Linked DNA regions of Homo sapiens: region 1 is linked to region 2. The links come from fine-mapping of genetic effects on gene expression. Tissue or cell type: lung. Region 2 holds a variant in brackets; the other region holds the start of a gene. All regions are shown on one strand. Distances are between the middles of the regions. Region 1 holds the start of PHF11 (PHD finger protein 11). Region 2 overlaps SETDB2-PHF11 (SETDB2-PHF11 readthrough).

What was found. PIP is the estimated chance that this variant, and not a neighbour inherited with it, causes the effect.
Region 1: it holds the start of PHF11, and the variant in region 2 is fine-mapped to the expression of PHF11 in lung (GTEx, PIP 0.99).

The regions. Positions count from the first base shown.
Region 1 is chr13:49,493,862-49,499,239 of GRCh38, forward strand. PHF11 (PHD finger protein 11) reads left to right here and starts at 2,092. Exons shown (of 10, transcript NM_001040443.3): 1 at 2,092-2,234. The coding sequence starts at 2,141. The region is part of intron 12 of SETDB2-PHF11 (SETDB2-PHF11 readthrough); the gene reads left to right. It overlaps SETDB2 (SET domain bifurcated histone lysine methyltransferase 2), which reads left to right. Exons shown (of 14, transcript NM_001160308.3): 14 at 1-1,142. RefSeq lists enhancers at 898-1,583, 1,894-2,133, 2,624-2,673 and a silencer at 2,154-2,433.
Region 2 is chr13:49,513,020-49,518,397 of GRCh38, forward strand. It overlaps SETDB2-PHF11 (SETDB2-PHF11 readthrough), which reads left to right. Exons shown (of 21, transcript NR_135324.2): 13 at 40-147; 14 at 4,999-5,132. PHF11 (PHD finger protein 11) reads left to right here. Exons shown (of 10, transcript NM_001040443.3): 3 at 40-147; 4 at 4,999-5,132. Among named protein-coding and RNA genes, the nearest start is that of PHF11, 20 kb to the left of the region's middle. The variant A/C (reference allele first, on the strand shown) is at 3,157.

The DNA.
Region 1 (5,378 bases), 19 kb before region 2:
CATTTTTATCTCTCTTGAAGCTTATAGGTTTATCTTTGTCTCAATGTTCTGTCCCTGTTAAGAGTCCATTTTCATCCTTTGTACTAGGTGCCTGGTGGGATCATTCCGTCTGAAACTAATGATTTCCCATCTCTTCACTGTTTCTGGAATTCCTGTTTTCCAGATGTTAGACCTCCAGAATTTGATCTCTAATTTTCCTATCTTTTCTCTTAACTTTCAGCTCTGTCTTCTTGCTAGGACCTTTTCCTAGGAGCATTTCTCAATTTAATCTTCCAGTTCATCTGTTGCATTTTATTTTTCTAGTCTCATATTGTCTCATATTTTTAATTTCTAAGAGCTCCCCTTCTCCGAATATTCTTTTTTTTTAATAGCATCCTATTTTGGCTCATGGTTGCAGTATTTTATCTCCTTGAAGATGTTTGTGTGTTTATGTATGTATATGCACACACGTATACATACACATACAGGCATGCATCTCTGTATTCTTTCGGCATAATCTGTGTCCTCCAGGGTTTGTTTCTTTGTTTCCCCTGTATGTTTGTTTTGGTCGTTCACATTATAGGCTTTCCTCAGAGTTAATGGTCTTGGTAGTCTACTCATATTTAAGTGTGGAACACCAAAAAGCTTACTATAAGCTGAGAGTGTGGTAAAGGGCTCTTTGTTTTACTATGACCTACCTGAGCTATCTTGCTGGGGAACACCCTAATGTCAGTCTCTTTATAAAGGGCCTTTCATTTTGGCCTGGCAAGAAATACTCTTTCATCCTCCTGCATGGAGGGCAAAAAAAAATTTAAAAATTGGCTGCTAGGGTCTGTCTGCTCACTTCCCTGTTTTGCAGACCCCACACTCTTCTGCAATTCATTTCATAGTTGTCAAGACTATACAAATTGTCCTTTTTAATGTTCTCTCTTCTGCTATCCCTAGTTGGCAGTCTTCCTCTTTACAACCTGCTGAAAGTGGAAGACCTCCAGTTTTCCTTTAATTCCTCAGCAAACCACCAACTATTATATGTCTTTTTTCCAGAACAACTTATTTTTTAACTATAATTATATGCATTTATGTTAGATTCACTGAAAACCTCATCTTGTATGGTGCTCTGTACCCTATGGGTGCTAAATAAAGGCTTGCTACTGGCAACTGGATTTAGGATCGGCTAATTCTGCGTCCTTTTAAGATATGCTTATTTAAGCCAAACTCGGTATGATAATTTTTTTTTTTTTTTTTTTTTTTTTGAGAGGGAGTCTGGCTCTGTCGCCTAGGCAGGAGTGCAGTGGCGCGATCTTGGCTCACTGCAACCCCCGCCTCCCGGGTTCAAGCGATTCTCCTGCCTCAGACTCCCGAGTAGCTGGGATTACAGGCGCCCGCCACCAAGCCCGGCTAATTTTTGTATTTTTAGTAGAGACGGGGTTTCACCATGTTGACCAGGCTGGTCTCGAACTCCTGACCTCGTGATTCGCCCACCTCGGCCTCCCAAAGTCCTGGAACTACAGGCGTGAGCCACCGCGCCCACCCGGCCAGTATGATAGTTTTTAGGAGGAACCCTCAGGAGAGTGATTGTTTCTCCCGCTGTGTTGTGGGGGGTGGAGTAGGGAAGCCTGGCGTTTGGGGTTTTTTTGTTTGTTTGTTTTTTGTGTGTGTTTGTTTGTTTGTTTGTTTTGAGACGGAGTCCCGCTCTGTAGCCCAGGCTGGAGTGTAGTGGCGCGATCTCGGCTCACTGCAAGCCCCGCCTCCCGATTCAAGCGATTCTCATGCCTCAGTGTCTGGAGTAGCTGGGATTACAGGCACCCGCCACCATGCCCAGCTAATTTTTGTATTTTTAGTAGAGACGGGGTTTCACCATGTTGGTTAGGCTGGTGTTGAACTCCTGACCTCGTGATCCGCCCTCCTCGGCCTCCCAAAGTGCTGGGATTACAGGCGTGAGCCACTGCTCCCGGCGTTTGGGTTTTTTAAGCTATTCAAATTAAGACTAGACTGGAATCTGGAGCAGTGTGTGTGACAACCCCTCTCTGCACACCCAACTTTCCCCGGGCCGGCTAGTGACTCAAAGCGACAGCCCAGATTTAAGAAAACGAAACCTAGTGCAGCTGGGGCACTTCCGGGATCTCGCTATCCGGCCGCCACCCGCAGCTGCAGCACAGTCATGGCCCAGGCGTCGCCGCCCCGGCCCGAGAGGGTGCTCGGCGCCAGCAGCCCGGAGGCCCGGCCCGCGCAGGAGGCGCTCCTCCTTCCCACCGGTGTGTACCGCGGGGGCGGGCGGGCGGGCGGGCGGGGCTGGGCAGCGACGGGCCCGGTCAAGGGGCCTGCCTTCCGGTCGTGGCCGCATGGGGGCCCGACCTGCCCCTACTCCGGGCCGGGGCCCTAGACGCCGGGGCGGCGCTGGACGAACTTGGCTCACCACTCGCGTGCCTGTTGGTGGGGGAGGGGGCCAGAGGACAGGGCGCGGCCCAGGCCAGTTCCACAGGTGGCTCTGACTGCCCATGGTTTCGCGCGAGTGGTGGGCACGCTTCGGTTTACCTCCCCCGCGGGTGACAGCCCAGTGCTTCCACCACAACCGATGTCAACTCTCCTAGCGCCCCTCCGCTCACCGGTAAACCAGGACAGTGGAGGGGCGCCCTGATGCGGTGAGGCAGGGGGCGGCCCTGAGGGAAGAGCTGGGTCTCACGTTCACGGAGGACGTGACTGGAACCCGTCTCCCCTTCTCCAGTCGTTCCAGTCCTCCCCGGCCCTCTACTTGAGTGGGTGGGTCTTCTGATGGGTTCCTGCCCTTGCGTGTGTGTATAGCTCCAAACGGTGTGCCAGGCTCAGGGCAAGGTCCTGAGCATACAAAGATGAGTTAGGCAGACCCTGCCCTAGAGACTCTACTAGGCAACTTTAATGAGGAGGTCAGAACCACAGAGGTACAGATGAGAGACTCCTGACTCCCAGTCTTCAGGGAAAGCTTTTTGAGGAGAGGATGGCTGGGCTTACCCTTTTTTTTTTTTTTTTTTTTTGAGAGGAGTTTCACTCTTGTTGCCCAGGCTGGAGTGCAAAGGCGCTATCTCGGCCCACTGCAACCTCTGCCTCCCGGGTTCAAGCGATTCTCCTGCCTCAGCCTCCCGAGTGGATGGGATTACAGGCATGTGCCACCACGCCCAGCTAATTTTGTATTTTTAGTAGAGAGGGTTTCTCCATGTTTCATGGGCTTACCTTTAAAGGGCAAGACTCAGCCAAAGGTGGAAAAGTTGAAGGGGTGTTCCCAGCAGAGAGGATGACACAAAGGCACCAAACCACAAAACGTCACACGTAAACATCATACGTGGCAACCACAAGCCAATCAGTTGGATATTTCATTCATTGGTATACATATGGACTGTAAGGTAAGTCACGGGAGATGCGCTTCCATCCTGACCTCTTCCTCAAACTCCAGACTGGTATAACCAACTTCTTCCATTTCTGAAATGATCTCAAACTGAGTATGTCCCAAAGAGAATTCTTGTTTCCTCCACTGTATTCAGGTACTCCAAACCTGCTCAACCACCAGCCCATTCCATTCGCCCAGGTGCTCCTTGCAAAAACCTTAGTGGCTCCTCAGGGCCTCTCTTTCCTCCGGACACCCCTTCTAATGCATCAGTCGGGCCAGCCAGTTCTGTGTTCAGCCTGACTGTATCTGGAGCCTGACTGCTTCTCACCACTTCCATTACTGCCACCCAAGCCTACGCCATCATGATCTTCTGTCTGGACTATTGCTTTCCTGGCTTCTATTCTAGCCTTTAATACAGGCAGGCCTGCAGAGCGGCCAAAATGCTTTTTGAAAAACAAAAAGCAAATGTGATTCTCCTACTCAAAACCCACCAATAGTCTCCCATGACTCTCAGAACAATCTATGAGCCTGGCCTGCAGTTTACCCCATGTCCTTATCTGATTTGACTCCTGCCCATCTTAATGACTCTGCTACCCTGCTACCTTGTAGGTCCTCTAAGCCACCAAAGCTGTCCCTGCCTCAGGATCTTTCCATTTGCTATTCTCTGCAAGGAAAACTCATTGCCACATTATCCCATTTTCAGTTCCCCATCATATTCAGGTGTCTGCTCATATACATCTTCCCTCAACCTTGCCTGCCCATCCTGTCTAAAAGAGCACCCCTTGCCCCTGCTCCTGTCACTCTCTACCTCCTTCTGCTCTATTCTTTCTCTATAGTACTTATCACTACCTGGAAAACAAAACAAAACTTGTTTAATGCCTGTCTCTACCACTGGCCACTGGCATGTAAATTCGTCTTACTCTCTTCTATCCTTAGTGCCTAGACTGGTTGGCCTAGTAGTAGTAGTAGGACATAGTAGGTACTCATTAAATATTAAATAATAGTAAGTCCTCATTAAATATTTGTTGAAGGAATGAATGTACTTGTATATAACACTACGGAGCTTGACTTCTGTAGGTGATGGGGAAATATGAGCAGATGTCCATTTCAGGTAGATCATTCTGACAGTAACATAGTACATTTCCGGTAGATCATTCTGACAGTAACCTAGCACATTTCTGGTAAATCATTCTGACAGTAACCTAGTACATTTCCGGTAGATCATTCTGACAGTAACCTAGTACATTTCCAGTAGATCATTCTGACAGTAACCTAGTACATTTCAGATAGATCATTCTGACTGTAACCTAGTACATTTCCGTTAGATCATTCTGACAGTGACCTGGTACATTTCAGGTAGATCATTCTGACAGTAACCTAGTACATTTCAGGTAGATCATTCTGACAGTAGCATAGTGCATTTCAGGTAGATCATTCTGACAGTAACGTAATACATTTCAGATAGATCATTCTGACAGTAATATAAAGAATGCAGTGGGATCATGACAGGGAAAATAGAGACAAGGACAAGAGATCACTGGAATAGACTAGGTGAAAGACCCTGAGGGTAAGGCAGTCCACCTTCCACACCGCTGCCAGCACTGTCTTTCTCTTAAACACACATGGGCACACACACATATAAACATGTGAGTGCACACACACAGATCAAGTAAGTCATGGTCCTTCCAGTGTTAATAAGCACGTACTGGCTGCAAGTACTACAAAAACAATTTGATGTAATTTAAGCATGAGGGATGCTTAGTAGTAGTAAGCAGGAAAACCAGACTCACAGACCCCCAGAGCATGGATACTTTAGCATCTTACAGAAAGGGCTGAGGACTAGGACCTGAGAAGCCATTATAAACTTTGACAACACTCTCCTTTATCTCTTATTTCTGCATCTCTCAGTGTATCTGCTTTGTTCTTCTCTTTCTCTGGTCCAGTTTTCCTGGTGATGGTATAGAAGATGGCTGCCCTTGCAGCCTCTCAGTTTTTACATCTTCTTTAAGAAACCAGCCCAATCTGAACTGAAATCTTC
Region 2 (5,378 bases):
ACTTTGTGCATACTCTGGATTTTTTTTTCCAATCTGCAGCTGTATTCTTCAGGACTTGTGGAATGTGAGGATCAGGATCCACTTAATCCTGATAGAAGTTTTGATGTGGAATCAGTAAAGAAAGAAATCCAGAGAGGAAGGAAGTTGGTAAGTGTAAATGATGTTATTTCTTATACTGGATGAACAGACCCTCAAGGAATGCATTCCAAAGGAGTCTATTTGACTGATACACCAGGGATAGAGAAGCATCTTGGAGAGCTGGAAGAAGTAGGAACTGTATTGGAAACCTCAATTCAACTTAACATTTAATTTTTTTTTTTTTTTTTTTGAGACGGAGTTTTGCTCTTGTTGCCCAGGCTAGAGTGCAGTGACACGGTCTCAGCTCACTGCAACCTCCGCCTCCTGGGTTCAAGCGATTCTCCTGCCTCAGCCTCCCGAGTAGCTAGGATTACAGGCACGGGCCACCATGCTCGGCAAATTTTTGTATTTTTAGTAGAGACAGGGTTTCACCATGTTGGCCAGGCTGGTCGCGAACTCCTGACCTCAGGTGATCTGCCTGCCTTGGCTTCCCAAAGTGCTGGGATTACAGGTGTGAGCCACCACGCCCGGCCAACATTTAATATTTTAAAATAAACTACCATATACTTCACCAGTAAAGTGATCTGAGTTAGAATGCTTTTGCTGTAAGTAGAAGAAAGCTCAAGTCAAACAGACTTTTACAAAGAGGATACTTACTTTTTCACTTGATCAGAGAAAACACCTGCTTTCCAAGTTGGTTGATTGAGTGGCTTGATAATGTCATCAGGGGCCCAGGTTCTTCCTCTCTGGCCTCCTGTCCCCAACATCAGCTGGTCCCATTGTGGTCATAGGGTGGCCGCAGGCAGCAACTGAAGCATCAGGCTTTCTTGTTCATACCCAGTGAAAGACAAAGGTCATCCATACACATGGAATAAGCCCCCTTCTGAAAGTTTCATTAGGTTGCACCCCTCTTTCTGCACCAACTGCTGGGGGTGGCCATAACTAATCAGGGGTCAGCTCCTCATGGGTCATAAGGGGGCTATTCAAGGAGGAAGAAATGCTGAGAAGTCATTCCACTGGGCTTATTGCAGCGACATCCTCTCAAGGACCCTTCACATCTTAGCAAGCAGGACAGCAAGTGTGAGCACCTCACATTCTGACTACAACCACAGGGTTAATAACCAGGGACAAATGTATAGTTAGTCTTTGCAAGGCATCAGCATCAGCAGCATCCTGTGGTAGGTGTGTTACATACATTGCTCTAGGTAAACTCCCAGCTATAGGTAAAATGATGCCCATTTTAATCGAAGAAATGGAAAGTGCAGGGTGAAAGGCAACAGTCCAGATGGAATTCTGCAAATTATGCTATCTTAGGCAGTGTACACAATACTGTAGTAGGTCCTGAAGCAAGCCATAAAAATGGACTGTGTGTGGCCCGGGCATGGTGCTGCATGCCTCTAATCCCAGCACTTTGGGAAGCCAAGGCAGTTGAGGACTGCTTGAGCCCAGGAATTTGAGACCAACCTGGGCAATATAGTGGGACCCTGTCTTTACCAAAAAAGAAAAAAAAATTAGCCCGACACAGTGGCATATACCTGTAGTCCCAGCTACTTGGGAGGCTGAGGTAGGAGGATTGGGTGAGCCTGGAAAGTCGAGGCTGCAGTGAGCTGTGATCACACCACTGTACTCCAGCCTGGGCAACAGAGTGAGACTCTGTCTCAAATTAAAAAAAAAAAAAAAGAGTGTGTGGATCCTGCTCTCAATGTCTATGCTATTACTAATTAATACTTGGCAAGACTGGCTGCTGACATCATTAGTGCTGACAATGCCACATCCCTAGGATTTTGGGTGTGATGAGATGGGTGAACTGATTAGAAAGTAGCAGACAGACCTCAACTGGAATATTTTTTTGCTCTTCACTAATTGGATTTGAGTGGGGAGACACAGAGTTAAAGAAATCTCTGTGAAATTCTAGTAGCCATCCAGTTATGAAGAGACCCAGGCTGAGAAATGAGGGCAGTTGATTGGAGGCATAATATTTGGGGGAAAGCAGGTACCTGAGGGTTTCTGCGGACCTTGGGATGCAGACTTCCCTACTGGGAAGGCTTTGGGATGGGTTGGAAGTGGAGGATAAAGGAGAGAAGAGAGGAAAGTCACCTGAGGTAATAGTTACCCTCTCACAGCATTTATGGAACTCTTGGACTATGTGGGCAGATACATGGCACACACCCAGGGTGGGGACAGGCCAGTGCTGTGGTATTTTCAGTAAGCTGGGCAAGTACCTTGAGGGTGAGCAGCAGGGGCCCTCAGCAAGCAGGCTCCTCCCTAGGATTCAGACTACCAATCTGACAGAGCCACATGGACATCCAATAGCATTTCAGAGTAAAGTGGCCAAAAAAGTACAGTTCCATCTCCTATACACACACACACACACACACACACACACACACACACACACACACACACATTCTCCATCTAAATCTGCTCATAAAAACAGCACTATCATTATCCATTTGCCCAAGCCAGAAGTCTAAGGACTCTCTTTTCCTCGTCAACCTCCCAGCCCAACACCAAGCCCATGGGCACGAACTCCTAGGTGCATCTTGCATTCATCCACCCACTTCTCTCAGCGTCAGTAATCCACCATAGCGGAGTCACCCATCTTGTTCTCTAAAGCGAGTACTGACACTCGCCCGACTGTCTCTCCTGCCATCCCTACCCCAGCCCGTAGTTCTCCACCCAGCAGCAGCCCAGCAGCCTGAGTGATCTTTCAATAATGTTAATCAGTTTATGTTCCCCGTGCAGAAAGATAAAACCCAACTCCTTACTCTGGCATGTAAGTCCTACGTGACCCAGCCCTTACTTACCCCTTTGATCATCCTGAGACTTCCCTGTGCCCACTTCGCTGCTCCAACAGCACTGGCCATCTGTCTTGTCCTCGCTGTAGCTTGCCAATGGGGAAGCTCATTCTTGCGGCCAAGACCCAAGGCCCTCTGCTTAGAATGTCTTTCCTCCTCCTTTTTGCATCTGGGAGCTCTTACTATTATTCAGATCTCAGCTTCCATATCACCTCCTTAGAGGTGACCCATTTTACTAACTGCCCAGTCTGAAGTAGGGACCCAGTGACACTGTCACTTC[A/C]CCCTATTTTAATTCGATATAATGTGTATATAACTTTGTGAGACGTTTTAAACTTTGCTTTATTTGATCATTGTACCTTGTCTCCAATAGAATGTAAGCTTCACGTGGACAGGCATCTTTTCTGCTTTGTCCACTACTGTTTTCCCTTATCCTAAAACCATGCCTGCCACATCATAGCTACTGCATGCTAAATAAATACTATATACTCATGTATTTTTAAATGAATAAATGTTTATTAGCCATTTGTATTTTTTCTTCTGTAATTTGCCAGTTACCATTTTTCTGCAGGTTATCAGAATCTTAAAACTTTATCTAGTATGCTACAAACATTCTTCTTTCAATCTTTTCCTTGTCTTTTAAATATTTTGAATGCCCTCACTATAAAATGGAAGTTTAAAATTTTTGTATAGTAGGTTCTGTCAGTTTTTGTTTTTGAAACAGATTCTCCGTCTGTCGCCCAGGCTGGAGTGCAATCACAGCTCACCGCAGCCTTGATTTCCTGGCCCCAAGCCATCTTCTGGCTTCAGCCTCCCAAATAGCTGGGACTACAGGAGTGTGCCACTATGCCCCGCTGATTTTTAAAGTTTTTTGTAGAGATGAGGTCTCACTGTGTTGCTCAAGCTGGTCTCGAACTCCTGGGCTCAAGCAATCCTCCTGCCTCAGCCTCCCAAAGTACTAGGATTACAGGCATGGGCCACCATGCCCAGCCTGTCAGAGTTTTCATTTGTGGCTTCTGGGTTTTCTTCCTGCCTTAGACAGCCTTCCTTGCCTCCATACTACGCTTTTTTTCTTTCTCCTATATTTCCTAATCTTTAAGAGTTTTTTGTTTAACATTGTTATCTGGTTCGAGCTTTAATCCATGTACAACTTATTCAGGAGTATATTGTGAGGTAGGGATCTAACTTTATTTTTTTCCTATATACATAGCCAGTTACCCTCCTCCCAAATTAAATGATCGTTCTTGTATGCTCTGATTTGAATTTCCACCGTTATCATAACCTTATTTCTTGCCTATATTTGAATTTCCTTTAACTGTTTCTATGCTTGCTTGTGCCGACCCTGGGCTATGGTGTGAGTGACCTCCTGTTCTGCAAGGCAATTTCACTGTGCCCCCACGTCATTCAGCCAGAGTATCATGCTGATCAGCCTTGGTCCTGGCTGGATTCCCCTAAACCAGTTAGGCTGCTGTGGCCACACACTGCCTAGCCATCATGACACCACTGTCACATATAAAATACCAGATAGATAAATACAAGCCAGGGATCAAATAAATTGAACCAAGAAAAAACTGTTAATAGAGTTGTAGAATTTTTAAAAATTTTTGGCCCTACTACCTAGATTCCCTTACTTTATCTCACATTATCCTCAATGGCAACTCTGTAAGACAGATATTATCACCCACAGCAGGTTCTGAGTCCGAAAGAGAAATCACACCACTCTCCGTGGCACAGCCAGCGACCAATCTCGCCTGTCTCAAAGGGCCCCCTAGTGGGGCCCCTTGCCTGGAGCTGGACAAGTTTGCCCACTCTGCTTTTTAGAAAATTCTTTTTAAAAGACAGAGACTGTTTTTTTGAAACAAAAAGCATTTTTCTGCTTTTAATCAGATCATTACAAAACTGTCTGTCCAAGCATTCCGGTTAGCTGAGGTTTCGCTGAAATTCCCAAATGAGCAGCCAAATATAAGTACTGTACCCTAATGTTTGTAACGGGATGGAATCTTGCTGATGATGCCCAGGATAAAATGCAGGGCTTCTGGAACTTAAATAACATTTAATGATATCTTTGAATTTTAACAAATAACAACAAACAGGTACTTACTCAGTAAAATCTATTCTTCTGTAGAAATGCAAATTTTGTCATAAAAGAGGAGCCACCGTGGGATGTGATTTAAAAAACTGTAACAAGAATTACCACTTTTTCTGTGCCAAGAAGGACGACGCAGTTCCACAGTCTGATGGAGTTCGAGGAATTTATAAGTATTTAATAAAACATTTTTAAAACCACATTTGGGGGATTGGGATAAGGAATGGTTGGATTAAGACAAGGAGACTTTGAAGACTAATTTTATGTAAATGGTTTTCAAATGAGAACAAAGCCAGTTTGGGGGATGCACAGGGGTTATGTGAATTTTGAATTTCAGTGAAAAATCTATATATATATATATATTATTTTAGTCACAATATCTTGAATAATGAGATCAATGTTAGGACAGCATGTTTTTT